4 linked regions of the Homo sapiens genome follow. The protein of the gene in region 4 interacts with the protein of the main gene of each other region in a biochemical or structural test. Each region holds a gene or a part of one and is shown on either strand. Other genes may lie near its edges. The genes, in order: SENP2, CSE1L, NOSIP and KPNA1.

Evidence for each region.
Region 1: the proteins of KPNA1 (region 4) and SENP2 form a complex in vitro, tested with the Homo sapiens proteins (one study listed by BioGRID).
Region 2: the proteins of KPNA1 (region 4) and CSE1L form a complex in vitro, tested with the Homo sapiens proteins (one study listed by BioGRID).
Region 3: the proteins of KPNA1 (region 4) and NOSIP form a complex in vitro, tested with the Homo sapiens proteins (2 studies listed by BioGRID).

Annotation. Positions count from the first base shown.
Region 1 is NC_000003.12:185,610,289-185,617,311, forward strand, and holds part of SENP2 (sentrin-specific protease 2), read left to right. Parts: intron 1-1,362; coding exon 1,363-1,457; intron 1,458-2,318; coding exon 2,319-2,370; intron 2,371-3,056; coding exon 3,057-3,120; intron 3,121-4,275; coding exon 4,276-4,452; intron 4,453-7,023. UniProt on the Homo sapiens protein: Protease that catalyzes two essential functions in the SUMO pathway.
Region 2 is NC_000020.11:49,084,300-49,091,322, reverse strand, and holds part of CSE1L (exportin-2), read right to left. Parts: intron 6,041-7,023; coding exon 5,937-6,040; intron 3,315-5,936; coding exon 3,217-3,314; intron 2,077-3,216; coding exon 1,926-2,076; intron 1,786-1,925; coding exon 1,577-1,785; intron 582-1,576; coding exon 484-581; intron 387-483; coding exon 301-386; intron 1-300. UniProt on the Homo sapiens protein: Export receptor for importin-alpha. Mediates importin-alpha re-export from the nucleus to the cytoplasm after import substrates (cargos) have been released into the nucleoplasm.
Region 3 is NC_000019.10:49,577,534-49,585,288, forward strand, and holds the start of NOSIP (nitric oxide synthase-interacting protein), read right to left. Parts: upstream 3,024-7,755; 5' UTR 2,982-3,023; exon of another isoform or gene 1,608-2,981; intron 1-1,607. Other genes in the region: PRRG2 (transmembrane gamma-carboxyglutamic acid protein 2 isoform 1 precursor), read left to right, coding at 5,687-5,771, 6,009-6,184, 6,380-6,419. UniProt on the Homo sapiens protein: E3 ubiquitin-protein ligase that is essential for proper development of the forebrain, the eye, and the face. Catalyzes monoubiquitination of serine/threonine-protein phosphatase 2A (PP2A) catalytic subunit PPP2CA/PPP2CB.
Region 4 is NC_000003.12:122,448,929-122,455,951, forward strand, and holds part of KPNA1 (importin subunit alpha-5), read right to left. Parts: intron 5,074-7,023; coding exon 4,942-5,073; intron 3,137-4,941; coding exon 3,048-3,136; intron 2,706-3,047; coding exon 2,606-2,705; intron 810-2,605; coding exon 646-809; intron 1-645. UniProt on the Homo sapiens protein: Functions in nuclear protein import as an adapter protein for nuclear receptor KPNB1. Binds specifically and directly to substrates containing either a simple or bipartite NLS motif.

The sequences.
Region 1 (7,023 bases), about 63 Mb from region 4:
TAGCTGGGATTACAGGCGTCCACCGCCACGCCCAGCTAATTTTTTGTATTTTTGGTAGAGATGGGGCTTCACCATGTTGGCCAGGCCGGTCTCGAACACCTGATCTCAGGTAGTCCACCAGCCTCAGCCTCCCAGAGTGCTGGGATTACAGGCGTGAGCCACCGCACCCGGCCTACTATCTAGCTTTTGAATGCAGAAATAACAGATTGTTTGCGAATAATCAGTTGTGAACTTTAAAAAAAAATTCTTTTGGTTTAGTCAGAATGTCAGTATTTTCTCCATTTTGACCAGCCATATGTTGGAAACAGCAGTATGTTTAACGAACTCTTAACTTTGTCATGTTGGCGAAACCCTCAAACTATTTTTGCTTTTTAAAGTTGCTGCTTTGGCTGGGCACAGTGGCTCACACCTGTAATCCCAGCACTTTGGGAGGCCGAGGTGGACGGATCACGAGGTCAGGAGATCAAGATCATCCTGGCTAACACGGTGAAACCCCATCTCTACTAAAAAATACAAAAAATTAGCTGGGCATGGTGGCTGGCACCTGTAGTCCCACCTACTCGGGAGGCTGAGGCAGGAGAATGGCGTGAACCCGGGAGGCGGAGCTTGCAGTGAGCAGAGATTGTGCCACTGCACTCCAGCCTGAGCTACAGATCGAGACTCCGTCTCAAAATAAATAAATAAATAATTAAAGTTCCTGCTTCTGGCTGGGTGTGGTGGCTCACACCTGTAATCCCAGCGCTTTGGGAGGCCGAGGCAGGTGGGTCACTGGAGGTCAGGACTTCGAGACCAGCCTGACCAACATGGCGAAACCCCATGTCTACTAAAAATACAAAAATTAACCAGGTGTAGTGGCGTGTGCCAGTAATCCCAGCTACTTGGGAGGCTGAGGCAGGAGAACCACTTGAACCTGAGAGGTAGAGATTTCAGTGAGGCCATGATCACACCACTGCACTCCAGCCTGGGCGACAGTGCGAGACTCCGTCTCAAAAAACAAAAAGTTCTTGCTTTTAATGTATTGTTTCAGGATCCATTTAAATACATAGCTTAAAAAGTTTTTTATCTTTTAATCTGAGTTTTATCACACTGAGATTTTTCAGTTAGTGCATCACTGGGGATTCAGAACCTCTGATTTTACAAACAGAGAAACTGGAGGTTAGGTGACCTGGCTGAAATATTATTAGAATCATGATTAGACTCCTTTTATCCTAGTCCCACATAGTTGCTTCCTTTCTGTTGTAATTTGATATAATAGTGTAATCAATCACCCCTATTTGGAGAAGCTTGCTGGACAGAGATAATGCATATTAATGGTAGACTTTGCTTTTGTATCTGATCTCCCTCACTTTTTGTGTTTCTAAGTTCTCAAAGAAGTCAGATGGACACATTAAAGACCAAAGGCTGGGGGGAAGAGCAAAATCACGGAGTCAAAACAACTCAGTTTGTTCCAAAACAATGTGAGTTCCCAGATTTAGCCTTGTCTTAATATATTGACCTTAGTTCATGCTACAGTGTTCATATGAGGTAGAAAATTGACATTCAAGTGTAGATGGTGTACCAAAATACTGTCAAATCTCACAGCATTGGGCCGGGCGCGGTGGCTTACGCCTGCAATCCCAGCACTTTGGGAGGCCAAGGCAGATGGATCACCTGAGGTCAGGAGTTCAAGACCAGCCTGGCGAACATGGTAAAACCCCATCTCTACTAAAAATACAAAAATTAGCCAGGCATGGTGGCACTTGCCTGTAATCCCAGCTACTCAGGAGGCTGAGGAAGTAGAATTGCCTGAACCTGGGAGGTGGAGGTTGCAGTGAGCCAAGATCACGCCACTGCACTCCAGCCTGGGTGACAGTGAGACTCTGTCTCAAAAAAAAAAAAAAAACCTCACAGCATTGACTGGGGCTTATCTAGGAATTTAGTAGAAAAGCTGTTTCAGGGTGAAGTAGATTCATAACATGGCTCTGGATTATTATTCCTAAGCTGCTAGATAGTAGCAACTATTTTGTGAGCTGAAATTTTATTATATTCCTTATATAACAATTTCCTTATACTTCTCCACTTACTGTCCACTAAATGACAGCTTACCAGATAAGCAGATATCACTCAGTTTATAGTAAAGATTATATTTAAACAGCAAAGATATGTATGCATTTTTTTAGGCAACTTAGTATATAGGGAGGCTAGTGTCTTTGGAATTCACTGTAGCATTTCAATGTAGAGGAATGTCTTGATGTTGTGGAAACTCTGTAAGCTGAAATTCTAACTATATTATTCATCGATGAAGGAAACATTTAATCTTTTCTTTACCATCCTCACAGATAGACTTGTTGAAACAAGGGGACCTCTATGTTCATTGAGAAGTGAAAAGAGGTACGTACATTCAGTTCATTCTACACTTTCTTTTAATATATATTTTCTTACTTTATAAGCTGTATTTATGAGTAAGCAGTTCTGAGGAATTGTGAACTCTCTTGAGTTCTGGTAGTTGGTCAGCATATAGGGTAGATAGGTAGCTAGCTGTTGTGTCAGATGCCCACCCTAGCCTGGTGGGTTGAGGGGGGTGCCCCTTATCTCCCAGGCGTCAGGGGTTGGGAGAAACACATGCTTCTTAGATGGGAGTTTGGTTGGAGTGGGGATGTCTAGTGTCAGTGTCTTTAGGATAGGAACAGTAAAGGCAGCTCTGCATGCTTTAGGATTTTGGGATGATGGTTTATAGCAGAGTTTGTAAACTATGGCCCATGGGCCAAATCTGGTCTACTTGCCTATTTTTGTATAGTAAATTTCTATTGGAACATGCGAATTCATTTACATACTGTCTGGCTGCTTTTAAATTACAGTGGCAGAGTTGCCACGATGTGCCCAAGACCATAAAACCTGCAAAGCCTAAAATACTGTCTGTTCCTTTTCAGAAAAGTTCGTTGACTCCTGGTTTAGAGTATTATGTAAACTCAACACAATTTTTATGTACAAATTACGAAATCTTATTTCTAAAACTAGGATGTACTAGGTTTGAATCATCTAGCAGAAGTCTATCATCTCTCAATTTTTTTCCTTAGGTGTTCAAAGGGGAAAATTACTGATACAGAGACGATGGTCGGAATCAGATTTGAAAATGAAAGTGTAAGTAAAAATCCTAGTTACATTTGATACCTGTTTACTTATGTAACTTATGTTTTGGTGCCCATGAAAAGCAAGAAAAAGTATATATATATAACTTTGATTGTTAATTCTGTTGTTTTTCTTTAAAAAAGCAGCAAGCCAGCCAGTCACAGTGGCTCATGCCTGTAATCCCAGAACTTTAGGAGGCCAAGGCAGAAGGATCACTTGAGCCCAGGAGTTTGAGACCAGCCTGGGCAACATAGTGAGACTGTCTCCACAAAAAAATTTAAAAGTTAGCCAGGCATGGTGGCATGTCTGTAGTCCCAGCTACTTGGGAAGCTAAGGTGGGAGGATTGCTTGAGCCCAGGAGGTCAAGGCTGCAGTGAGCTGTGATCACACCATAGCACTCCAGCCTAGGTGACAGAATGAGACTCTGTCTCAAAAAAAAAAAAAAAAAAAAAGGCAGGAAGCATTGAAAATACACAACTTTTTTCTTCCTTCTGAGTTGTTGGAGTTTTGCCTCTGTACAGTAGCCACCTTTGTTTATGAGAGACCAATCTGCCTCCATACCAACATGTTACCTACATTTTATGGCTTCTTAGGGAGAATTTCTTAAAAATCATACATCTCTGGAAAGAGATGATATGTTCTGGGTTGCTGGCAGAATTCTATTTGTTTACTACAATTGTGGTTATATAGGTGTTCATTCAAATTAAGTGGTACATTAATGTTTTGTGCATTTTCTGTAATATCAAATGACTTTTTTCAAGGATAAACTAGAACCAAGTTGAGTTACTATAAAGATAGTAGGGATTTATTCTGAGTGATGGGATTGTGGGTCATATTTTTTGCTGTTTAAAACTTTCATAATATCTTTTAAACATACTAATTTTAATTGTGATAGGAGAACTGAAAATACTTTTCTTGCTACTTCCAGGGAAGGTGGTGAGTGTTCTGTTTGATGGTTCATAACTGAGGGTCCTGTGAGGCCTAGGTCTGGAGCTTTTTTTGCTCCCCCTTGCAGGGACAGACAGATAGGGTAAATCTACTCACTTGGGGGATTTGCTAATTCTCTTTTCTTTCACATTAGTGGCAGTTTTATATTTCATGTGTAATCTGTGTTTATATTTGCAAGTATCAAACATGTCAGTAGAATTTAGATAATTTTTTGATCAGAGGAGGGGATACCAACTGGAGCCTGACCTATCAGAAGAAGTGTCGGCCCGACTCCGCCTGGGCAGTGGAAGCAATGGCTTACTCAGGAGGAAAGTGTCAATAATTGAGACAAAGGAAAAGAATTGCTCAGGCAAAGAGAGGGACAGAAGAACGGACGATCTCCTTGAACTTACAGAGGTATTGTTCTTTGTATTGATCCTAAAAAGAGGCATGTCTTTAAATAACCTCAGTTATTCTAACTTGAATGTTTTGTTTTGAGGACTTTCTCCAGGCTAGGGGTGAATATATGAAAACATGTCAGGTCCATGGTCTGTTGATTCACTTTGACTACATTGATCTTTAGTGAGGCATGATCATTAGTGGCCTAAGGGATCAGATTGATATTCAGCAAATGGGGAGTCGACACAGTCATCTCATATCTTGGAATACAACAGATTCTTTGTAAATTCTAACCTTCAAATATGTTGAGTTATATAGTATGGGTTTGGCATTAAGAATAAGTTCATTGCATTTTTTTTTTGAAAGTTATTATAGTTTACTAAAATGCCCCCTTTGTTGATTATTGCATTTGAAAATAGTAAAAACTTACAGAACATAAAGAATGAAGGTAGTTAAAATTCTTATTTTAAAGATGTGCCCACATCTTGGCTTCCTCCACAATGTTGCCCTAGTAGGCAAATCTCTTGAATACTTACTGTTATATTGGGCATGTAGGTGGAGAGAGAGATCCATAAAATGGTGAAGCTGTGTGCAGTGGGAAGCAGCATATATTTAGAAGAAAATAATTTCTTTTTTTTGAGACAGAGTTTCGCTCTTGTTGCCCAGGCTGGAGTGCAATGGCGCGATCTTGGCTCACTGCAACCTCTGCATCCTGGGTTCAAGTGATTCTCCTGGCTCAGCCTCCCTAGTAGCTGGGATTACAGGCACCTGCCACCATGCCCAGCTAATTTTTGTATTTTTAGTAGAGACCGGGTTTCACCATGTTGGCTAGGCTGGTCTCGAACTCCTGACCTTAGATGATCTACCCACCTCGGCCTCCCAAAGTGCTGGGATTATAGGCGCAAGCCACTGCCCCCGGCCTAGAGGAAAATAATTTCTATTGGGTTTATAGATTTAGTTTTGTATCTTAAATAATGCATTTATCTGCATAATTCTTTAGTATGATGAAGCCATTTATTCCATAAGGAGTCAATTGCTAGACTGCTGGGTGGTTTCCAAGTTTCTGCCTGTTTGCTTATTCTCTTCATGTCAAAAAGGATGGTGTGACCCCTTAGATGTCCTAATCTTATTTTGATGTTTTATTTATTTATTTATTTTTGAGATAGAGTCTCGCTCTGTTGGCAGGCTGGAGTGCAGTGGCACAATCTCAGCTTACTGCAACCTCTGCCTCCCAGGTTCAAGTGATTCTTCTGCCTCAGCCTCCTGCGTAGCTGGGACTACAGGCGCGTGCCACCACGCCCAGCTAATTTTTGTATTTTTAGTAGAGATGGGGTTTCACCATGCTGGCCAGGCTGGTCTCGAACTCCTGACCTCATGATCCGCCCGTCTTGGCTTCCCAAAGTGCTGGGATTACAGGCGTGAGCCACCACACCCAGCCTTTTTTGATGTTTTAAAAGTTTAAAGGCGAGAATGGGCGTGGTGGCTCACGCCTGTAATCCCAGCACTTTGGGAAGCCAAGATGGGCGGATCATGAAGTCAGGAGTTCGAGACCAGCCTGGCCAGCATGGTGAAACCCCGTCTCTACCAAAAATACAAAAAAATAGCTGGCATGGTGGTGTGCACCTGTAATTCCAGCTAATCAGGAGACTGAGGCATGAAAATTGCTTGAACCTGGGAGGCAGAGGTTGCAGTGAACTGAGATCATGCAGCTGCATGCACTCCAGCCTGGGTGACAAAGTGAGAATCTGTCTCAAAAAAAAAAAAAAAAGAAGGGCCAGGCTGGTGGCTCACACCTGTAATCCCAGCACTTTGGGAGGCCGAGATGGGCAGATCACGAGGTCAGGAGATCGAGACCATCCTGGCTAACACAGTGAAACCCCGTCTCTACTAAAAATACAAAAAATTAGCCGGGCGTGGTGGCGGGCGCCTGTCATCCCAGCTACTCGGGAGGCTGAGGCAGGAGAATGGCGTGACCCCGGGAGGCGGAGCTTGCAGTAAGCCGAGATGGCGCCACTGCACTCCGGCCTGGGAGACTGAGCGAGACTCCGTCTCCAAAAAAAAAAAAAAACGTTTAAAGTGGAAATCAGGAGTTTACTATTATGAAGGGAGCAAAGTCCAGGAAATTAGATGCACCTGGGTTCAAATCTTCTTCTACCTTTTAATAATTATATGACTTTGAATATGTAAAATAAATTCTCTGGGTTTCAATTTTCTTCTCTATAAAATGATAATAATGTCTTCCTCACTAATATGGATCAATGATGTGCTTCAAGCATCTAACACCATGTTTGACTCATAGTGGTTAATACGTAGTAGTAGGAAAATTGAGACTATACTTTAGATGTAAATATTATTATTAAATTATTGTTTCCACAAGCTAATAAGTGAACCAGGATTTGTTGTAAGTATTACTTACAACAATTAAGTAAGGCTGCTTTGTAGTTATAAGTTAAAATATTTTCAGGGCTGGTGCAGTGGCTCATGCCTATAATCTCAGCACTTTGGGAGGCCAAGGCAGGTATTGCTTGAGCCCAGGAGTTTGCAACCAACTTGGGCAATATAATGAGGCCCCATCTCTATCACTAAAAA
Region 2 (7,023 bases), on a different chromosome or scaffold from region 4:
CTCCCAAGCAGCTGCGACTACAGGCACATGCCACCATGCCTGGCTAATTTTGTTGTACTTTTCGTAGGGACAGGGTTTCGCCATGTTGCCCAGGCTGGTCTTGAACTCCTGAGCTCAAGCGATCGGCCTCCCTTGGCCACCCAAAGTGCTGCGATTACAGGCATGAACCTCCACACGTGGCCAAGTATTTTTTGCATAAAGTTTAAAACGGATAAAAAATGTATCTGCAACCATAAAGTCTAAGGGTTTTAGCTACCTTCTTTCATTACTTCTGTAGAACATCCAGATGATTTTACTTACTCTTGATAAACTTGGTTGTTTTGGAATTCTGAAGTCTCTGGAATAGCAGAATGAAGATTTGTTTCCTATATTGGTCAACTGATTCACTAAAGAATTAAAAAAAATCAACAATATAAATTTAGGACTTTTCTGAGCACCTAACAAAATTTCTAAATAAATGCACAAAGTTCTAGTCATACTCACGGAGGCATGTGCTCTATTATACTGTTTAGAAGATAAAAACCTTGGTGGTCATTTGCTTTGGATGCAATCAGCTTCTGAAAGACACCTAGTAACCCAGGCTGTTAAGAAATGAGATCCAACAGAAAATGGTTAACAGGAATAATTATTCGAAAAGTTAAACATGATATATGTCTTAAAACAGAGTTCATACTGTAATAATCTATCCTTTTCTCTTTAATTATTTCTGAAACATATGGGGAACAATTCCTCCCGCGTAGCCATTAAAGTAATTTTTTTTTTCTTTGAGACGGAGTTTCACTCTTGTTGCCCAGGCTAGAGTGCAATGGGGCGATCTTGGCTCACTGCAACCTCTGCTTCCCAGGTTCAAGCGATTCTCCTGCCTCAGCCTTCTGAGTAGCTGGGATTACAGGCACGTGCCACCACACCCACCTAATTTTTATTTTTAGTAGAGACGGGGTTTCGCCATGTTGGCCAGGCTGGTCTTGAACTCCTGACCTCAGGTGATCTGCCCACCTCGGCCTCCCAAAGTGCTGAGATTACAGGTGTGAGCCACCACGCCCGACCAAAGTTAAGTTCTTAAAATCAACCTGTTTGGCTCTGTTTTTAAAATTTTCCATCATGGATATAAATAACTAAAGGATACAGAATTCTGATAAAACATACCATAACATTTTCTACTAATTATTTCCGTTATTATTATTATTATTTTTTTTAAGAGACAGGGTCTAGCTCTGTTGCCCAGGATGGAGTGCAATGGTGAGATCATGGCTCACTGCAGCCTTAAACTCCTGGGCTCAAGCGACCCTCTCACCTTAGCCTCCCAAGTAGATGGGACCACAGGCATGCTCCACTGTGTCCAACTAATTAAAAAGCTTTTTTTTCCTTTGTAGAGATAGATCTCACCACGTTGCCTAGGCTGGTCTTAAACTCCTCGGCTCAAGGGATCCTCCCACTAGAGGCTCCCAAAGTGGTGGGCTTGAGCCACTGCCCCCAGCCTTAAATTTATTTTAAATAAAAAAATTTCAAACATCTGCCATCCCCAGTTTCTCCAAGCTACTTTATAAAATTACAGTTATATCAAAACCTGACGCACAATTTTGTCAGCTGCAGCACTTGCTATTGTGTTTGAACCGCGTTCTAAGAATGCTTGAAGAAGCCTCACTAGAGCAGGAATATTTCCTGTTCTTTCCCAAAGCACTGGCTGAAGGAGATGAGGAAATAAGGCCATATAGGAAGACGGGATGTCATTTTTGTGTGTTTCCAGAAGCAAAGACATCACTTGAAAGACGTATGGAATAAATTCTGTTGATAAAAGTAAAAACAGAGCTGTGAGCTTCAGAAGGAATGACTGACACAAAAGGCCCACATCGCTTAGGTGGGCTGCATTTTATAGCCATGTTAATTTTATTCCATTACAAAGAAAATAATTTCCGTTAACTTACCTTGCACATCATTTTGTAAGATTTCAGTAAACACCAAAAACAAAGCCTCCTCAAAATTTACAACAGCAGCAGGGTTAGCTTTGCAAGTTATTCTTATGGATAAACATATTGCTTCAAACATGTAGTGATTAAAGTGAGGTTTGCTTGGGTTCTGAAATTAAAAAAAAAAAACCTAATTATGCTAATAATCCACACCTAACCTTTATAAAACACATTTAAAATAGAGGCCATCTTATTTTTTAAAAATCAAAATTAAGAAAAAAACACCAATTATACCCTAGTGCTTGTTCATTTGAATTTTTTTTTAAATGGCCCAAAGTCCACCATGAAAAAAATACTTCAGAGTTACAGAGTTGCTTATACAAACCTCAGATCCCAGAGCTGTAACTTGTCTTAAGCCCACGTGCCCTCGCAGAGAAGAAATACTAAGTCCTAGTAATGCCACTAGCCTTAACTTCTGTGGGCCTCAATGTCTATGTCTACTTACTGATAATCCCCCAAATGAGTAGTTTTTTATGTTCTTTTTAAGCAACAAAACCCCATTTTTCTTTAAACAAGTTCTTGGAAGGCTACTAGCATACAAATCTAACTCAATCAGAACATGAGATGGTAATACATATGGGAGGCGGAGACTTGGGTTCCCTCCCCGCTCCATCCCTCAAGGCCCTAAGTAGTCCAAAGACCCTTAGCCCTAACTCAGTTGAATAATAATCACTCTGTTCTCCAAAATCCCTCCAACACTTCCTATGAATTGATCTAATTCTCATAAGATCAAGAATAGCATCTAAAAAGGAATTCTGTCAGCCTTAAACGGATTTATTTTCTAAAATTTAGTGTTAATAAACATGAATCTAAGTATCTGTAAAATTTTGATCAGAGTGAACTTTCCTTTTGAGAAATAAGAGTAAGGAAGAAAAGACAACACAAAGGATTTTAATCATCATTTCATAGAAGTCCAGACAGCCTCTTTTATATCCATTTAGTGCAAAGCCTACTTAACTCCATTTAAGGTAATTTTGGATCATCTGCACTTTCTTTTTCTACAATAAACATGTTACTTTTGTAATGAGAATGAAAATGTATTCAAGCTTCTAGCACACACTTAAAGGTGACTGCTATTACGTCTCCAATCTAACAGCATGCCCACACTTTCAGAAAAGTCCATTAGTGGCTGGTCAGGAAGAATTCACAGACCTTCTCTAAAGCTTCACGTAATGCCAAAGAGTTCTGAGGCCCAAACAGTTTGGAGCAAATAAAAAAGGAACCCCACTTTCAAAATTGGCTCTATTACCTTACTAACAGCTAATAGCTTCTGTGTAAGCTGAGTGATGAGAGTAGGGATGTAGGGGATTATGGCTTCTTGTAGGAGAGAAAAACTTCTCATGATAGCTGTAAAATACAAAAACAGCAAAAACAAATAGAGTTTAGTTAAACTTCAGAATAAGAGAGCGACTGGGGGGAAAAAAGCGCACTAATTCATCAACTAAATTTTAAGATGCTTAGACAACCCCGAGATAGCTCTCTACATTTAAAAATAATCTAAATTTCCCTTCCTTTTAAAATTAGGACGGGTTGGCAACAAAATTTAGCTGGGAAATACTGAGTATTTCTAGAAGGCTCAAGGTTTAAAAAATAATTAAAGAGGTTGACTAAGAGGAAGAAACAGTGAGCTGACATGAATGGAGCAGGTGAGTCTGAGAGAGAACTGTTTGGGGTCTCTTTCTCTTAGAAATCAGTAGCAGAGGCCATGCTTGGTGGCTCACACCTGTAACCCCAGCACTTTGGGAGGCCGAGGCTGGCGGATCACTTGAGGCTAGAGTCTGAGACCAACCTGGCTAACATGGCAAAACCCATCTCCATTAAAAATAGCAAAATTAGCCAGGTATGTGGTGCACGTCTGTAGTCCCAGCTACTCGGGAGGCTGAGGCTTGAGAATCGCTTGAACCTGGGAAGTGGAGGTTGCAGTGAGCCAAGATCATGCCACTGCACTCCAGCCTGGGAGACAGAGCGAGACTCCCTCTCTCTCTCAAAAAAAAAAAAAAAAAAGAAAAAGAAAAAGAAACCAGCATCAGAAAATGTTTAGCCCTAGCCTAAAGGAAACATGATCACAAACTACAGGAAACTGAAGAGAAAACTGCCTATCCACCTCCCTCAAAAAAAGAGATTAGGAGCCTAAAAAAATTCTAAAAATACATGTAAAGCCACAGAGTCCAAATTGCAAAAATATTGCTCAAAAGACCATAAATGGGTTAAAAATAGGAAGCATGGGAGAAAAATAAATTTGTCAGCTAAAAATGTATAAAAGCTCTCTTTCCACAAATAACATTTCTAAAATAAATGTTTACTAAGCAGAGCCCCAAATACATGCCAAGCATAAAGGACAGAAAGCTATCTGCTCTTGCCTCCTGAACTCTGCACATCATGTTTCCTCCTCTACTGGAGTCAAAGACTCATCCACCCTTCAACAGATTGCTACCTATCCCTCACACCTAACGTTCGGTTAGGTCATATCTCAGCTTAGAGATCACTTCCTAGAGAAAATCCTTCCCTGACCTGGGTTAAAAGGGCTAGAGGATAAATTGGTGCTCCTCCACTAGGCTGGCGCAGAATTATTTCATTCACTCATACAACCGTACAGAGAAGGTATTACATACTGTGTATTCTTACATACCCTAAAAACACAGTAATGAAGATTACAGACTAGTTAGCCGCTCTCATAGAAATGGACATTAAGGCTGGGCGCAGTGGCTCACACCTGTAATCCCAGCACTTTGGGAGGCTGAGGCGGGTGGATCACCTGAGGTCGGGAGTTCAAGACCAGCCTGACCAACATGCAGAAACCCTGTCTCTACTAAAAATACAAAATTAGCTGGGCATGGTAGCACACGCCTGTAATCCTAGCTACTCGGGAGGCTGAGGCAGGCGAATCGCTTGAACCCAGGAGAGTGAGGCTGCAGTGAGCTGAGATTGTGCCATTGCACTCCAGCCTGGGCAACAAGAGTGAAACTCCATCTCAAAAAAAAAAAAAAAAAAAAAAAGGACATTAAACAACAATAATTACACAATTATACATCATTGTTGGGGGAAGGATAGTGTTGGAAACATACACCCAGATACACACATCCACTCTAGGATTTCTGATCCAGACTGAAAAGATCAGGGAGTTTCTCTGAAAAGTGCTTCCTACAACCCAATGTGCTAGGCTTTTGGGATGCAACAGTGAAAAACACTGAGACTATCTCTAAATTCAGAGCTGGCACCAGGACACTCAACTAATGTAGTGCCTGGTGGATGGATACACCAGCCTGTGGATGGATACAGCTGCCTGTGTCCTTGGCAGTACGTAAGAAGACACGATTTGTGCAGAGTCTACCACAGGCACCCACATTTCACCCCTACCTAGGTGAGCATGCAGTTAATAAACGTTGCATGATCTCTTCTTTGCCTTAAAGAAACTCAATCTAGGGAAGGAAAAAAGGGCTTTGCTACATTTTCTGTAATGAGAAGTTCCATATCAAATTAAGATTACTGTTGGCCAGGTGCAGTGGCCTCTAATCCCAGCACTTTGGGAGGCTGAGGCGGGCAGATATTTGAGGTCAGGAGTTTGAGACCAGCCTGGCCAATATGGCAAAACCCTGTCTCTACTAAAAATACAAAAATTAACCGGGCATGGTGGAGTGCACCTGTAATCCCAGTTACTCGGGAGGCTGAGGCAGGAGAATCGCTTGAACCCAGGAGGGAGAGGTGGCAGTGAGCTGAGATCAAGCCACTGCACTTCAGCCTGGGCAACAGAGCAAGGCTCCATCTCAAAAAAAAAAAAAAAAAAAAAAAAAAATTATTGTTAGTAGTAAACAAGATAATGTTTTTCATTTTGAAATATCTAAACTAACTTACTACTTGGTAAACATTATCTGGTTCATAGACTGTATAACCTGAAGTATAACTCAGAGTGCTCACCCTTACAATCTGAGATTGGATACCTGTAGTCTGCACACCAGGGAAACAGCCTACCTTTCATAATATATTCATTTTCTGAAGAGCCAGGAAGTGTGAGAGCTTTGAAAAGGTTTGTTAGCAGAATCTCAACAAACGGTGCGATTTCTGCAGCTGTAAAGCTATAGATGAAAAAACAGCTTTCAGTCACTACCAACTCTTGAGCTTGTCACTGCAGATTACCCTTGGCAACCACTATGTCACCCTTCTCAGCATAAAACTGAGCCATCTCCCACCACTGACAATTGATAGACAGTTTAGGAAAATAATTTTTTTACATGTGCTCATGTTAGGCTCCTAAGAAGGCACATCGAGAACCAAACACAACTGAACCAAAAAGCCAGCTAAACCCAACAACATCTGAAGTTGAAACAGTTGTCCCTGGTTTATATCTATTACCACTGAGAAAGAACTCAGAATCTCAGGGGACTCTGTCATTTATTTTGTTTTTGGAGGTGGAGCCAAGATTCAGAACTGTTTTCTGCATAAATTCTGGGCCTGAAGATAGGTACTGGCTTGACTCACCTCAAAGGATGTCCTTTCTACCCTTAATTGGCCACTGAGAGTATCTGTACTTCAAGTTCTTGATGAAGGAAAGAACCTAGAACTGTTTTCCATCTCTTACCCAAAGCTCATTTCAAGAAATAATACTGTTGAATAGTGGCCTGAAAGACATGCAGACCATCCATTCCTCTACATTTCATCCTGGTTCAGGCCAGAAGACCTATTTTCTTGGTCCCCAGTGAATTACTTTCATTCGGTTAGGTCATATCTCAGAAATAAGTGACCTTACGCAAATAGCCACATGAAAATAACTGTTACATGATTGTTGCTGAGAACACTACTACTACTATTGTACAGTATTCTCTGCTTTAACTTTTATCTCATAGACCCTGTGAAAATTTTAACTTCCCAAGTTTCCCTCTTTGCCCTGGCTGCTAAGAGACTCCAAATAAAATTTGGAGTTTCTTGGACTACTATATAGGATCCTTTGACACACATTTCTGTTTATTAACTTTATCTCAGTTACTTTCCTTGGCTCCAGTTTATTAAATTGTATTGTCATAATGCACCTATTTTAGTAAGCAGCCTCAAATGCTTTTAG
Region 3 (7,755 bases), on a different chromosome or scaffold from region 4:
TGTCTCAAAAAAAGAAAAAAAAAGAAAAGAAGTATATCTTGGGTAAAGGAATATTATCCAGCCATAAAAAGAATAAAGTAGCTGGCTGGGCGCCGATGGCTCACACCTGTAATCCCAGTACTTTGGGAGGCCAAGGCAGGAGGATCACTTGAACCCAGGAGGTTGAGGCTGCAGTGAGCCATGATCGAACCACTGCACTCCAGCCTGGGTAACAGAGCAAGGCCGTGTCTCGGGAAAAAAAAAAAAAAAAAGAAGTATTGATACATGCCACAACATAGGTGAACCTTGAAAACATGCTAAATGAAAGAAGGAAGGCAGTCACAATAATATTTTATGGTTTCATTTGTGCAAAATACCCAGATTAGGCAAATCCACAGATATAGCAGAGTAGTGGCTGCCAAAGACTGGGGTGGGAAGGATTGGGAGGAAATAGGGAATGACTGCTAATGAGTACCAGGGTTTCTTTTTGGGTGATGAAAATATTCTTAAAATGATAGTGTTGATGGTTGCACAACTCTGTCAACGTACTAAACACCACTGAATTGTATATTTTCAATGGGTGAACTATATGTTAGGTAAATCATATCCCACTAATGCTTTTTTTTTTTGAGAGGGAGTTATGCTCTTTTGCCCAGGCTGGAGTGAAGTGGCATGATCTCAGCTCACTGCAACCTCTGTCCCTAGGGTTCAAGCAATTCTCCTGCCTCAGCCTCCTGAGTAGCTGGGATTATAGGTGCCAGCCACCATGACCAGCCAATTTTTGTATTTTTAGTAGAGATGAGGTTTTACCATGTTGGCCAGGCTGGTTTCGAACTCCTGACCTCAGATGATCCACCTGCCTTCACCTCCCAAAGTGCAAGGATTACAGGCATGAGCCACTGTGCCTGCCCAATGGGGATTTTTAAAACAGGTAGCTGGCAGGATTTGAGTTTGGTCTGTAGAACATAATTAGCTGATCCCTGGCATGAGGAAACAAGTAAAATGAGGCCGGGCTCAATGGCTCACACCTGTAATCTAAGCACAGCACTTTGGGAGGCCAAGGCAGGAGGATCGCTTAAGCCCAGGAGTTTGAGACCAGCCTGGGCAACATAGTGACACCTTGTCTCTATCTATTTTTTCTTTTTTTTTTTTGAGACAGAGTCTCACTCTGTCGCCCAGGCTAGAGTGCAGTGGCGTGATCTCGGCTCACTGCAAGCTCTGCCTCCCGGGTTCACGCAATTCTCCTGCCTCAGCCTCCTGAGTAGCTGGGACTACAGGTGCCTGCCATCATGCCCGGCTAAGGGGTTTCACCGTGTTAGCCAGGATGGTCTTGATCTCCTGATCTCATGATCCGCCCGCCTTGGCCTCCCAAAGTGCTGGGATTACAGGCATGAGCCACTGTGTCTGGCCTATTTTTAAATACTTAAAAAAAAAAAGAAAGAAAACAGAAGCAGGTAAAATGAGACCACAAAAAAGCAAACGGGACAAATTCAGATGGTGGGATGATCAACTGAACTAGAATTAGTTTCTTCAATGAATCGATTACACCAAGAAATAACCAAAGTGGAGTGGAAGGGGGAACAGTTCTAAATTAAGAGAGATGTAAAAGACGATAGCAATTACTTAACTATATCCTGATTCCAACAAACCCACAGTTACACTGGACTTGACTCTGCACCACGTAATGGATAGTAGTCTAGAATTACGGTTGTTCTTTTAAAGTGTGATGATGGTATTGTGGTCATATCAGCAATGTTTCTGGTTTTTACACACGCACCCTGTTAGATAAAATTTATAGAAGGTCATTGGTTTGGATTGAGCTCCTGCACTAGGTTCAACAGACCAAACCAAAATGGAGACACTCATGCTAAAGTTCCATGCTTCCAAGCCAAAACTAAGTTGATATCTGATCTTCTGAGATATCAGGAGAGAGATAATAGCCAAATCCCCAAACAACCCAGTTTTAGCCCACCTGATAAAGGAAGTCCCCTCTACTTTAACCTTTAACTTAGAAATTTAATCAAGTTAATCAATTTAATCAACTAGCTTTTTGTTTTCCGTTTCTGATTTTCTCAGCCCTTTGTCTCTGAAAACAACCTCTGCTCAGCTCATCGGAACACTCACGCTATTTTCCATAATTAGATGTTGTTTGATTGTAGATTCACGAATAAATGCCAATTAAGATCTTCTCACTAAATGTGTTGCAATTTTGTCTTTTGACAATCCTTAAGTGTCATGATGCCTACGATTTGTTTTAATCTCTTTAAGTTTAAAAAAATACAGCAAGTATGGCAAAAATAATCATTGGTGATTTGGGTGACAGGAATTCCTGTATTCTTCTCTCACTTTTATATAAGTTTGAACATTTTCGTAAGAAAACATTAACATCAAACTGCCTCAAGGACCGTTCAAGCCCCAAGTTCACAGAATTAGCAGCACAATCAGAATGGGAATCCATGACTGCCTGACCCCGAAGCTCCACACAAGAAAACGTGAATCCCTGCACCAACCCCGAAAGGGAAGGGGCTGTCAAAAAGGTGAAGAGAAGGTGGCGATGGATGACTGCACAATCTAGTATCGCCCGCCGTCCCACCACAGTCTGAGAAACTGAGGCCAGGAAAGGAGTTCTCCCTCCTCAACTCCCACTCCTTAGACCCCCAGCAATCCCAGTCCACTCCTTCCCTTGGGACCACCAGCAAATAGCCATCATCTACAGCAGAACTGTAACTCTCAGGAGAACTGGCCGATGCTAGCTACCACTTGACTGAGTTTATAGTGAGAGAGAGAGACAAAGAGAGAGAGAACTGCCCGATGGACGGTTGGCCACCTCCAGCAGAGTGTAGTTCAGCTTCAAACTTGGGGCGCCCGGACAGCTGTATTAATAATGATTGACAGGGAATCGGGAATCCAAAATCTTGCCCCAGTCTCCCTCAAGACCCCAGGCCTCTAGCCCGCAGGAAAGCGATCCCAGCAACACTCTTCCTGCACCGCCTCGAACTCACCTCACTAACGACTCCCAGTCCCTCGGTCGCTTCTTCAACTGTGCCCCGACACCGGAAAGGAGCACTATTTTCCCCCTCCGCTCCGCCCACTTCCGCCCAGCAGAAGGCACCGGAAGTAGAGCTGCCCCTAGTTGCGGAAGTGCCTCGCCTGGCTTGCTCAAGTCCTCTCTTCTCTTTCTCTCTCCGGAAACGTGAGTAGCTAATCGAAAGTTCCGGATATTGAAACTGGTGGGAATATGGGGAACGCTTACTATGTACGAGGCATTTCCCAGGGAGATCGTTTTTTCCTGCTTGGTTCCCAGGTTTTGAGTCTCTCCAAGCCCAAATTTAAGGACTAATCACTTCCCCTAGAGATCGGGAAGCCCACTTTCCCAAATATATCATCCACTTTTCTTGCTGCATCTTAAAACAATTGAGAAGAGACAACTACGCTCCCATTTTACAGACAGAGCCATTGGGAAATTGAAAATCAAAGCCGTTCAAGTCGCTCTCAGGAAACAGGGATTTACTGCGGCACTGCCCAGCTGTCCCAGGGACTAAGGCATATCGTTCCCGCTAGTTTCTAGATACCTAGAGACCTAGATATTAATTTTTCTAGCTCGGACAGACGAACTCCCAGGGGAGAGCCAGAGCGGGTAGGGGTCGGGAGGGAGGAGGAGGGTCGAATCTAATCCCCCAGGTATCCCATGGTATTCGACACCTTGGCTTCCTCATGGAGCTCTGGCCTTTAAGTCCTTTATCCCAAGGTCCCTTTAAATACTTTGTCCCTTACCTGAGTCCCGCCCAGGGCAGGTAATGGCAAGTTCCGCCCACCTGCCAGAAACGGGGATCAGGCCTGGTTACCGGGAGTGGGGCGCCCCTCCTCCTTATCCCCTCCCCTCTTCCCTGTCCCCTTTCACAGCTGGCTGTAGCTGGCCAAGGAGTTCTCGATTAAAGAGGAAGGGGCAGTGCTCACATTTCTGGGCAGGTAAGTGAATGTCCCTGGAGGAAGAGCCTGGCTTGGGGACCCAGGCATCCTGGCTCCCCGCCCCTCCGAGACCCAGAAGTTTGGGGCTCCTAGGCCCAGGAGTCCAGGGCCCCTGCCCACTTAGGTCCCTAGACCCAATAATATAACTAATCCCCTGCCTCTGCCTCTCTCGTAATCTTTGTTGTCTGTGGGTGGATGTGACAATGAGCACAGAAAGAGGCACAAGTGGAAATTACCAGGAAGGGAAGACTCCAGATCACCAGTGGACATGTTTATAAGCATCTGTGTCAGGTGCTGTAGACACAGTGGGGAAAGAAAGATAAGCTGCCTGCTCCTTGCTTTCTTCTCTGGCGGACACTGCCTTCACTGAAATCCTGGCTCTCACACTTGCACACTGTGTGACCTTCGGCAAGCTATATTACCTCTCTGTGCCTCAGTTTCCTGTTCTCTATACTGGGGATAATAATAGGACTCCTGGTCGGGCGCAGTGGCTCACACCTGTAATCCCAGCACTTTGGGAGGCCGAGGCGGGTGGATCACTTGAGGTCAGGAGTTTGAGACCAGCCTGGCCAACATGGTGAAACCCCATCTCTACTAAAAATACAAAAAATTAGCCAGGCGTGGTGGTGCGCACCTGTAATCTCAACTACCCGGGAGGCTGAGTCAGGAGAATCGCTTGAACCCAGGAGGCAGAGGTCACAGTGAGCTGAGATAGCGCCACTGCACTCCAGCCTGGGTGACAGAGCGAGACTCTGTCTAAAAAAAAAAAAAAAAAAAAACTCCTGTGAAAAGTTTTGTTTTGTTTTGTTTTTGACATGGAATCTCGCTCTGTCACCCAGGCTGGAGTGCAGTGGCACAGTCTCGGCTCACTGCAACCTCTGTCTCCCCTTTCAAGTGATTATTCTGGCTCAGCCTCCCAAGTAGTTGGGATTACAGGCGCCCACAACCACGCCTGGCTAATTTTTGTATGACTCCTGTGAAAAGTAAAATGAGTTGAGGCCGGGCACAGTGGCTCACGCCTGTAATCCCAGCACCAGCACTTTGGGAGGCTGAGGCAGGCAGATCACTTGAGGTCAGGAATTCAAGACCAGCCTGGCCAACATGGTGAAACCCCATCTCTACTAAAAATATGAAAATTCACTTTGGGAGGCTGAGGCGGGCAGATCACGAGGTCAGGAGATCGAGACCATCCTGACTAACACAGTGAAACCCCATCTCTACTAAAAATACAAAAAAATTAGCCGGGCATGGTGGCCGGCACCTGTAGTCCCAGCTACTCGGGAGGCTGAGGCAGGAGAATGGCATGAACCTGGGGGGTGGAGTGTGCAGTGAGCGGAGATCACACCAATGCACTCTAGCCTGGGTGACAGAGCGAGACTCTGTCTCAAAAAAAAAAGAAAATTAGCGGGTGTGGTGGCGCATGCCTGTAATCCCAGCTACTTGGTAGGCTGAGGCACGAGAATCGCTTGAACCCAGGACACAGAGGTTGCAGTGAGCTGAGACTGTGCCACTGCACTCCAGCCTGGCTGACAGAGCGAGACTCCATGTCAAAAAAAAAAAAAAGTAAAATGAGTTTATATAGGTAAACAGTATCTGGCACAGAATACAGGCTGTGTAAGTGGCTGCTATTATTGCCATTCGTGGACCACAGAGGCCAGTCAGAGAGGCACTGCCTCATTACCCAGGGACTAAGGCCCTTGTCAGCTGTAACAAACCTGGTTCTAGGTGTCTGGAAAATATGAGGGGCCACCCCTCTCTGCTGCTGCTATATATGGCATTAACCACCTGCCTGGATACTTCACCCAGTGAGGAGACAGACCAAGGTGAGTGTTTGGGGGAAGTGGCATCCAGACACTTGGCGTTGGCCTCCCCCTGACTCAGGAATGTTTCTAGTCCTTCCTCTTCCAGGAGTCCAGGACCCAGCCCCTTCCTCCTTCAGACCCAGGAATCTGGATTCCCAGCCCCTGCTCCTTCCTCCAGGACCCCACTGCTTTCCATCCCCCTATGACTCCAGCCCTAGGGACCCTCCATTTTTCTGTCCCTCATGTCTTTGGGTCCAGAAGTCTTCCTGGGTCCCCCAGAGGCCCAGAGCTTCCTGAGTAGCCATACCCGGATTCCAAGAGCCAACCACTGGGACCTGGAGCTGCTCACACCAGGGAACCTGGAACGGGAGTGTCTGGAAGAGAGGTGTTCCTGGGAAGAGGCCAGGGAGTATTTTGAGGACAACACTCTCACGGTGAGGGCCTCGAGACCCTGGAGTTTCGGGCCCTCTCTCTTCTCTATACCTGTGGGGAGGTTGCAGGGGTAGGTTCTGGCCTTCAGCTCCCTCCTCCTTGGTGTCTCAGAAATCAGGATGGGCTAGTTTGGGGGTGTGAACCTCCCAGCTGAATTCCTGCTTTTTCCCCTTCTTTTCCACTCCTTCCCCCTCAAGGAGCGCTTTTGGGAGAGCTACATCTACAATGGCAAAGGAGGTGAGTGAGGGGCTGAAGCCATCTTGTTCTGTGCAGCTAAGGTAGTCCCTTCCCAGCGAGGCCAAACCAACGTCCTCCACCCCAAATTAGGTACAAGAATCGTCTGCCCCCCAATTCTGTGCTCTCTGAAGCTGGCTGCTAAAGGAGTTCCCTCCCTTAAGACCCCAGCTTGCCTGAGGAGCCCCCCACACCTTATTTTATTTTTAAATATTTATTTTTGCTTTTTTTTTTTTTTTGAGACAGAGTCTCGCTCTGTTGCCCAGGCCGGAGTGCAATGGTGCGATCTCGGCTCACTGCAAGCTCCGCCTCCCGGGTTCACGCCATTCTCCTGCCTCAGCCTCCCGAGTAGCTGGGACTACAGGCACCCACCACCACACCCGGCTAATTTTTTGTATTTTTAGTAGAGACGGGGTTTCACCGTGTTAGCCAGGATGGTGTTGATCTCCTGGCATCGTGATCTGCCCGCCTCGGCCTCCCAAAGTGCTGGGATTACAGGCGTGAGCCACCGCGCCAGGCCTTTAATTATTTATTTTTGAGACAGGGTCTCGCTGTGTCACCCAGGCTGGAGTGCTGTGGTACAATCTTGGCTCACTGCAGCCTCAACCTCCCGGGCTCAAGCGATCTTCCCACCTCAGCCTCCTGAGTAATTGGGACTCCAGGCACACATTACCATGGTAATTTTTGTAGTTTTTGTACAGACGGGGTCTCACTATGTGGCCCAGGCTGGTCTTGAATGCCTGGCCTCAAGCAATCCTTCTGCTTCAGTGTCCCAGACTGCTGAGATTATAGGTGCCAGGCCCCCCACCACATCTTATTGGACGCAAGTCCTGTGTCCCTAGGAAGGGAAAAGTGTCAGTGGAGGGAAAGGTTAGAGCTGTGGGGCCCGTCAGGCCTTAGGCTCAGAGGGGCAGGCCCACCTGAACCCTTCCCTGGTGTCCAGAGTAAGTGGAAAGACCAGCCCCTCCGGCAGCTTGATTGCTGGGGACACAGCCCTCTAGCAACACGACCAAGGGAGGAAGCCTGCCCATCCTCACCTGCCCATTTTGCCCCCAAGAACCCCTTCTCTGAGGGGTTGCCATCTTGTTCCCATCTTGTTGCCAGCCTTGTTGCTAAGGGGGGCTGCTCCTTAGCAACGGGGCCTGGCCAGGCCAGACCAGACGAAGAAGCCTGAAGCAGTACCTGGCTGATTTCCCCTCCCCCACAGCCCCATCCCAGCAGCTGCCTGGTTGCTAAGGAGGCCTTCTCCCTAGCAACCACACCTAGCCAGGCTCCAGGACCCAAGGCCTTCTGCCCACTGGAGGACCACCCTCCGGGCCTCCGATGCCCCACCCCCTTG
Region 4 (7,023 bases):
AGAGTTTTCTATTTTGTATTAATACATTATAACTATCTAATATATTCCAAATGTCATGTTTGCGACAATGTCTCTTTGCATCTACTTTGTACTTTAAATCTCCCATACCTTGTAACTGTACCATTTCTCCATTATGTTATCACTTTCATTTTTTTCTTCTGTAGTATCTAAAAATTTGATTAATACAGTCTCAAATTATTTATGTCACGAGTAAATCTTCCACTCCATTATCAAAAGCATCACGGAGATGATAAAGCAAAATAAGATTGAATTTCTGATACTTGTCTAAAATAAGCTCTAAATGAGACAGACAGATAAGGAATGACTATTTTAGTGGCAGTATGCCTTCTGATGTCCGGTGGTTGATCTCAGGCCATCCAGTATGAGCCTGGAACTACACATATCAGAGTTTTCCCAATGTTTCTGCTAAAGGCCTGCTAACAGCAGAGGACTAAGAGGTTCTCTATAAGCCTCAATAAAACAAGACAAACAGATCTGACATCAAAATAAACAAGTAACAAAAACAGTAGCCCAAAGCACAATAAATCAATTATCATGTACAATCCATTAATATTTAAGTATTAGCAGCTAGAAAACTAGTACCAAGGGAGAGAAAGTGGACACACTTTCTAAAAGATATCTTACATCAGCAGTTCCACAAGTCTCCTACATACTCCCGCATCGATGACCGCTTGAATTTTATCATTGGGTCCATCTGATAGATATGAGAGGGCCCAGCAGGCATCAGCCAGTACATCAGTGTCACTGACAAACAGCAACCAGGAAAGCACATTCAGACATGGAGAAACCTGTAAAAGGAAAATGATGATTATGAAATTCAATAGACTAAAAGCCAGAAGTGAGGTGAGATACTCAAGAAGGCAACCAGGCATGTACTTGGTGACTTCTAGGGTGATTTACACTTCTAAAGATGAAGCAGCAAGTACCTAAGTGGCATTTCCATCTTTGGCAATGTTGTCAGTGATCTTGCACTAATCTGTAGTCAAAGCCCAAGGAAAATAATTTCAGAGAGCAAAGTTTTATATACATCAATTCTTGGAGTAAGACTCCCTATCAAAACACATTCTTTGTGGACTAAACAGGTAAAGGAACTTTCACAAATGTGAAAACTAGGAAATTCTGTATTTTAGATACTTTGTTAAAGACCAAAAATGCTAAGGTTTTGTTCAGTGAAAAATGATTCCAAATTAAAAACAACTACAAAAATACCCATTTATTTTAATATCCAGAATCTGCAAGAAATTCAAATCAGCAAGAAAAAAAAATCCCATCAAAAAGTGGGCTAAGGACATGAACAGACAATTCTCAAAAGAAGATATACAAATAGCCAACAAACATATTAAAAAATGCAGCTGGGCGTGGTGGCTCACGCCTGTAATCCCAGCACTTTGGGAGGCTGAGGTGGGTGGATCACCTGAGGTCTGGAGTTCAAGACCAACCTGGCCAACATGGTGAAACCCCGTCTCTACTAAAAATACAAAAATTAGCCGGGTGTGGTGGTATGCGCCTGTAATCCCAGCTACTCGGGAGGCTGAGGCAGGAGAATCACTTGAACCTAGGAGGCAGAGGTTGCAGTGTGCCGAGACCGCGCCACTGCACTTCAGCCTGGGCAACAAGAGCAAAACTCCGTCTCAAAAAACCAAAAAACAAAAAATAGATGTTGGCATGAATGTGGTGAAAAGGGAACACTTTTACACTGTTGCTGGGAATGTAAACCAGTATAACCACTATGGAAAACAGTGTGGAGATTCCTTAAAGAACTAAAAGTATATCTACCATTTGATGCACCAGTCCCATTCCTGGGTATCTACCCAGAGGAAAAGAGGTCATTATAAGAAAAAGATACTTGTATACGCAGGTTTATAGCAGCACAATTCACAATTGCAAACACATGGAACCAGCCCAAATGCCCATCAATCAACAAGTAGATAAAGTCACTCAGGACTGGAAAACCAAACATCAGATGTTCTCATTCATAAGTGGGAGCTAAGCTATGAGGACGCAAAAGCGTAAGAATGATACAATGTACTTTGGGGACTCAGGGAGAAAGGGTCGGAGGTGGGTGAGAGATAAAGGACTACACACTGGGTACAGCGTACACTGCTTGGGTGTTGGGTGCACCAAAATCTCAGAAATCACCACTAAACAAGTAACTCATGTACCTAAACACCACCTGTTCCCCAAAAACCTATTGGAAAAAAAAAAAGAATCTCATGGACTCCCAGAGAACTCACAGACCACACTTTGAGAACCACTGTTTTAAGAGAACTGAAAGGATAGTCTCCTAAACAGTATACTAATTGTATGAAGCCTAATTTCAATAAGCTTTACAAATTCTTCCTTCATGCTATGCTTTATTTGCAGTCCCATCGTAAATGTGCACCTTCAAGCTATGCTCTAAATTTGCTTTTTAAATAATAAAGAGAACCAACAAAAACAACAACAACCCTGTTTCTCCAAAAACAGATAAAATTCTAACATTTTAAATTTTAACAAAAATTATCTTCCTGTTCACCTTACCATTGGTTGCAATACTCTTTTAATTGTATTTTTTCTGCCAATGTCCCAAAAGCATAGTCCTTACCTTTGCAAATTCTGGAGGTGGACTTTTCCCTCTACAGAGATTAGACAAAGCCCATACTGCATTCCGGGTCATGGTCAGGCGGTTTTGCTTTGAAAATAACCTAAAAGCACGATGGTACAATGGTAAACTATGTAACAGACAGTGATTATCTGATGACATAAATACTAAATAATAATACTTTTGATAAAGAGATGTCTTCAGATAGCTTTTCTCCAGAACATTAAAACTTCATTAATTCTGATGCAAGTAATTCAGAATTCAGAATTTTGGCATGGAAAAAGATAGGGTGCTTGAGGAAATGATCTAAACAAGAAAATATCTGGAATTAAAAATAACACTAGAAAATCCAAAATGATTTCCAAACATGTAATGCTTTCTGAGGAATCTCTTACATTTTTATTCTCAAAAAGAAAAAAAAAGGAAGAAGGAAGAAGAAACTTACTGCAAAAGAGGGGGAAGGATATTGCAGTCTAAGACATAGTCCCTGCACATGGTACTATCTCCAGCAATGTTGCCAAGAGCCCAGACTGCCTGTGAAAGAATCATTCATTAATAAAGGTTACATAGTTTAATTCCCTCATAATTCTTTCAGATGCCAGTATATCACAATAACACGTTCATCAGGGAGTCAAATGAAACAGTTGTAGGATTGGGGGAGGAAGATAAATAATATCCTAAAGTGTACAACAAACAGAAGGTATTCGGTTTATTAAAGGAAAGAACTAATTCATTTTTGTTTGTTTTTGTTTTTTGATACAGAATCTCGCTCTGTCACCCAGTATGGAGTGCAACACAGTGAAACTCCATCTCTACTAAAAATACAAAATTAGCCGGGTGTGGTGGCAGGCGCCTGTAATCCCAGCTGCTTGAGAGGCTGAGGCATGAGAACTGCTTGAACCTGACAGGCCAAGGTTGCAGTGAGCCGAGATTGAGCCAATGCACTCCAGCCTGGGTGACAGGGACAGACGGAAGGAGGGAAGGAGGGAAGGAGGGAAGGAGGGAAGGAGGGAAGGAGGGAGGGAGGGAGGGAGGGAAGGAGGGAAGGAAGGAAGGAAGGAAGGAAGGAAGGAAGGAAGGGAGGGAGGGAAAGGAGGGAGGGAGGAGAGAGGGAGGGAGGGAGGGAGGGAGGAAGCAAGAGAAGGAGGGAAGGAGGGAGGGAGGGAGAGACGGAGAGACGGAGGGAAGGAGGGAAGGAGAGACGGAGGGAAGGAGAGACAGAGGGAAGGAGAGACGGAGAGAAGGAGAGATGGAGAGACGGAGAGAAAGAAAGACGGAAAGATGGAGAGACAGAAAGAGAGAAAGACAGAAAGAAAAAAAGAGACAGAAAGAGAGTATTTTCTTGCTTACATAAGAAAACAGTGAACAAAAAGAAACTTGCTTTCTGTACTTTTCTGCACAAAAGTGGCAAAGACTAGCCACTTTCTTTTTTTTTGAGATAGGTCTCACTCTGTTACCGAGGCTGGAGTGCGGTGGTGTGATATCGGCTCACTGCAGCCTCAGCCTCCTGGAGCTCAAGTGAACCCTCCCACCTCAGCCTCTCAAGCAGCTGGGACAACAGGCGTGTGCCACCATGCCCACCTACTTTATTTTCTGTAGAGACTGGGTTTCGCCATGTTGCCCTGGCTGGTCTCGAGCTCCTGGGCTCAAGCAAGCTGCCCACTTCAGCCTCCCAAGTGCTGGAATTACAGGCAGGAACCACAGCACCTGGCCTACTTTCAACACTTGAAATTTCTACAAGAAAAAACCTCTATCAGTAACTGCTTACATGGTCTAAAAAAGTACATATACAGGGCTTAAAGAATGTCAGGTTTGGAAGGGGAAGATTATTTTATGTGTCTAAGAGAAATTCTGCCTACAGTCACTAAGAAATTTTCTATTTGGTTAAGACTAAATTTCTAGAACACTCCTTTGTGACAATCCATAGATTACCAAAGCCAACTGGTGAAACTCAGCCCCTTATTATGTTGGGAAATTTTGTGGTTTTTTTTGTTTTTCTTTTTTTGTTTGTTTTGTTTTTTTTGAGACAAAGTCTTGCTCTCGTCACCCAGGCTGGAGTGCAATGACGCGATCTCGGCTCACTGTAACCTCCACCTCTCGGGTTCAAGCAATTCTCCTGCCTCAGCCTCCCAAGTAGCTGGGATTACAGACACGTACCACCATGCCCGGCTAATTTTTGTATTTTTAGTAGAGACGGGATTTCACCATGTTGGCTAGGCTGGTCTCGAACTCCTCGTGATCCACCCACCTTGGCCTCCCAAAATGTTGGGATTACAGGAGTGAGCGACATGCCCAGCCAAAAACTTTCTTTCACCTGCTTCTTTTTGTTTCATTTTTACCTGTTCCTGGACATCTTCAAACTCTGAGCTGAGCAACTCTATGAAGATGGGCACAGCTCCTGCCTGAATCACAATTCGGGTCTGAAGAGAATTTCCTGAAGCAATATTTGTCAGTACCCAAGCTGATTCAAACTATAAAGATAAAAATAATTTTCATTATCTTTTTAGAATGTAAAAGTTTGTTTACTTATAACAGTAACATTTTCTGTACATGAAAAAAAGATTCTGAGATCATTATTTGCACATAACCTATCAGTTGAGTACTATATTAATTTTAAAAGAAGAATATCCAGAAGAAATACCTCAACCTAGAAGAATATTCAGGGTGTCTAAAATTTCAGTTCAAGAAAGAGTAAACATGACACCATAAAAAGAATGAGAGAGTGTTACATATGCTGATATGGTATGATCTCCCAAGATATAAATGAAAACAAAATGCAAACAGTGTACATTAATATGGCATTATACCATATTTTCTAAAAGCGTTAAAAAGGAATATATGCATTAATTTACTTATTGCACAGATTATCTTCAGAATGAGTTAGAGGAAACTAAATACTTGTTGCCTGCATAGAAAGGTGATGGTAACTAGGGAATAAGGATGAAAAAGATACTTTTCACTGGAAAGCTTTATGTGCCTTTTAGCCTGTACCATGTATGTTATCTAATAAAAAAGATTTAAAAACTTCTGTAGAATGGGCAAAGTAAAATGGGGGGAGAATGTTAGTGTGAAACATAAAATACAGGCACAGTGAAAAAGGCAAAAGGTATCAAATGATAAGTAGGTGAAAGGAGTTAACAGCACATAATGAAAAGAAATGACAACTTCAAAGAATAAGAGCTTCCAATAAATGAGAGAGCTCCAAACCAAAATACAGAGATAGGACTTTTTGGGCATTCTTAATAGGGAGGGAAAAATGAAGGTAAACTGACTAAAGGTTGATATATAGCATTACAGCACTGGTAAACAGAAGATATAAAGGAAATTATGGCCAACAAAAAATAGAGCATATTACTAAAATATATCTCTAACACTAACTTGACTCTTTAGCTTAATATTGAGAAATCCAATAATGAACTCTTTTCTATTTAGTTAAGAGTTCTTAATTACATTTCAGGTTGTTTCTTCCACCATTCTGTCTTCTATTTAATAAAGCACATACACAGAAAAAAAGAAAAATTCCATGGCATGTCCTTTAAATCAGAGAAAATAACAAGTCGTCATCAAATGACCTGTGATTCTTCTAAGCTTCCAGATTAACTAAAAGGTAGCTGTCAGGTAGAAAACTAAATTCATTAATCTTTGGGAATAGAGGAAGACAGGAAAATGGGCCATCTGATCAAATCACGTTCAAAGCCATGTTAGTGATAGAAAATTCATAGCAGAAGACACATAACCAATGGATGTTCCAAAGAAAACTATAAAAGTGACATACATGAGTGAGGTAAGGTGGTTTAGTAGCAGCAGGGAGGCCCAGAGTAGGAGTACTTCGGTTAAAGAGCCCGTATCTGGTCCCTTTTTGTTATAACAAAAATTCTGGGGACTTACAGATTAAACCCCAGATATCATGAAATAAAAATTCTTCCCATATTTATCTCTATGATTAAATTACTAATGAAAGCAACACTCAGTCCCTTTCAGTACGTCTGAATTAAAACTTGACATTTGTACCGTACTTTATATTTTCTTTTTTTTCTTTTTTGAGACAGAGTCTCAGTCTTGTTGCCCAGGCTGGAGTGCAATGTCACGTTCTCAGCTCACTGCAACCTCCACCTCCCGGATTCAAGTGATTCTCCTGCCTCAGCCTCCCAAGTAGCTGGGATTACAGGCATGTGCCACCACGCCCGGCTAATTTTTATATTTTTAGTAGAGACGAGGTTTCATCATGTTTGTCAGGCTGGCCTTGAACTCCTGATCTCAAGTCATCCTCCCATCTAGGCCTCCCAAAGTGCTGGGATTACAAGCATGAGCCACCGCACCCGGCCACTTTATATTTTCAAAGTACTATTCACATACTCGCAGATGATCCCTACAACAACCCAGAGATGTAAAGTATCTGGCTTTTCTTGTGTACAAATGAG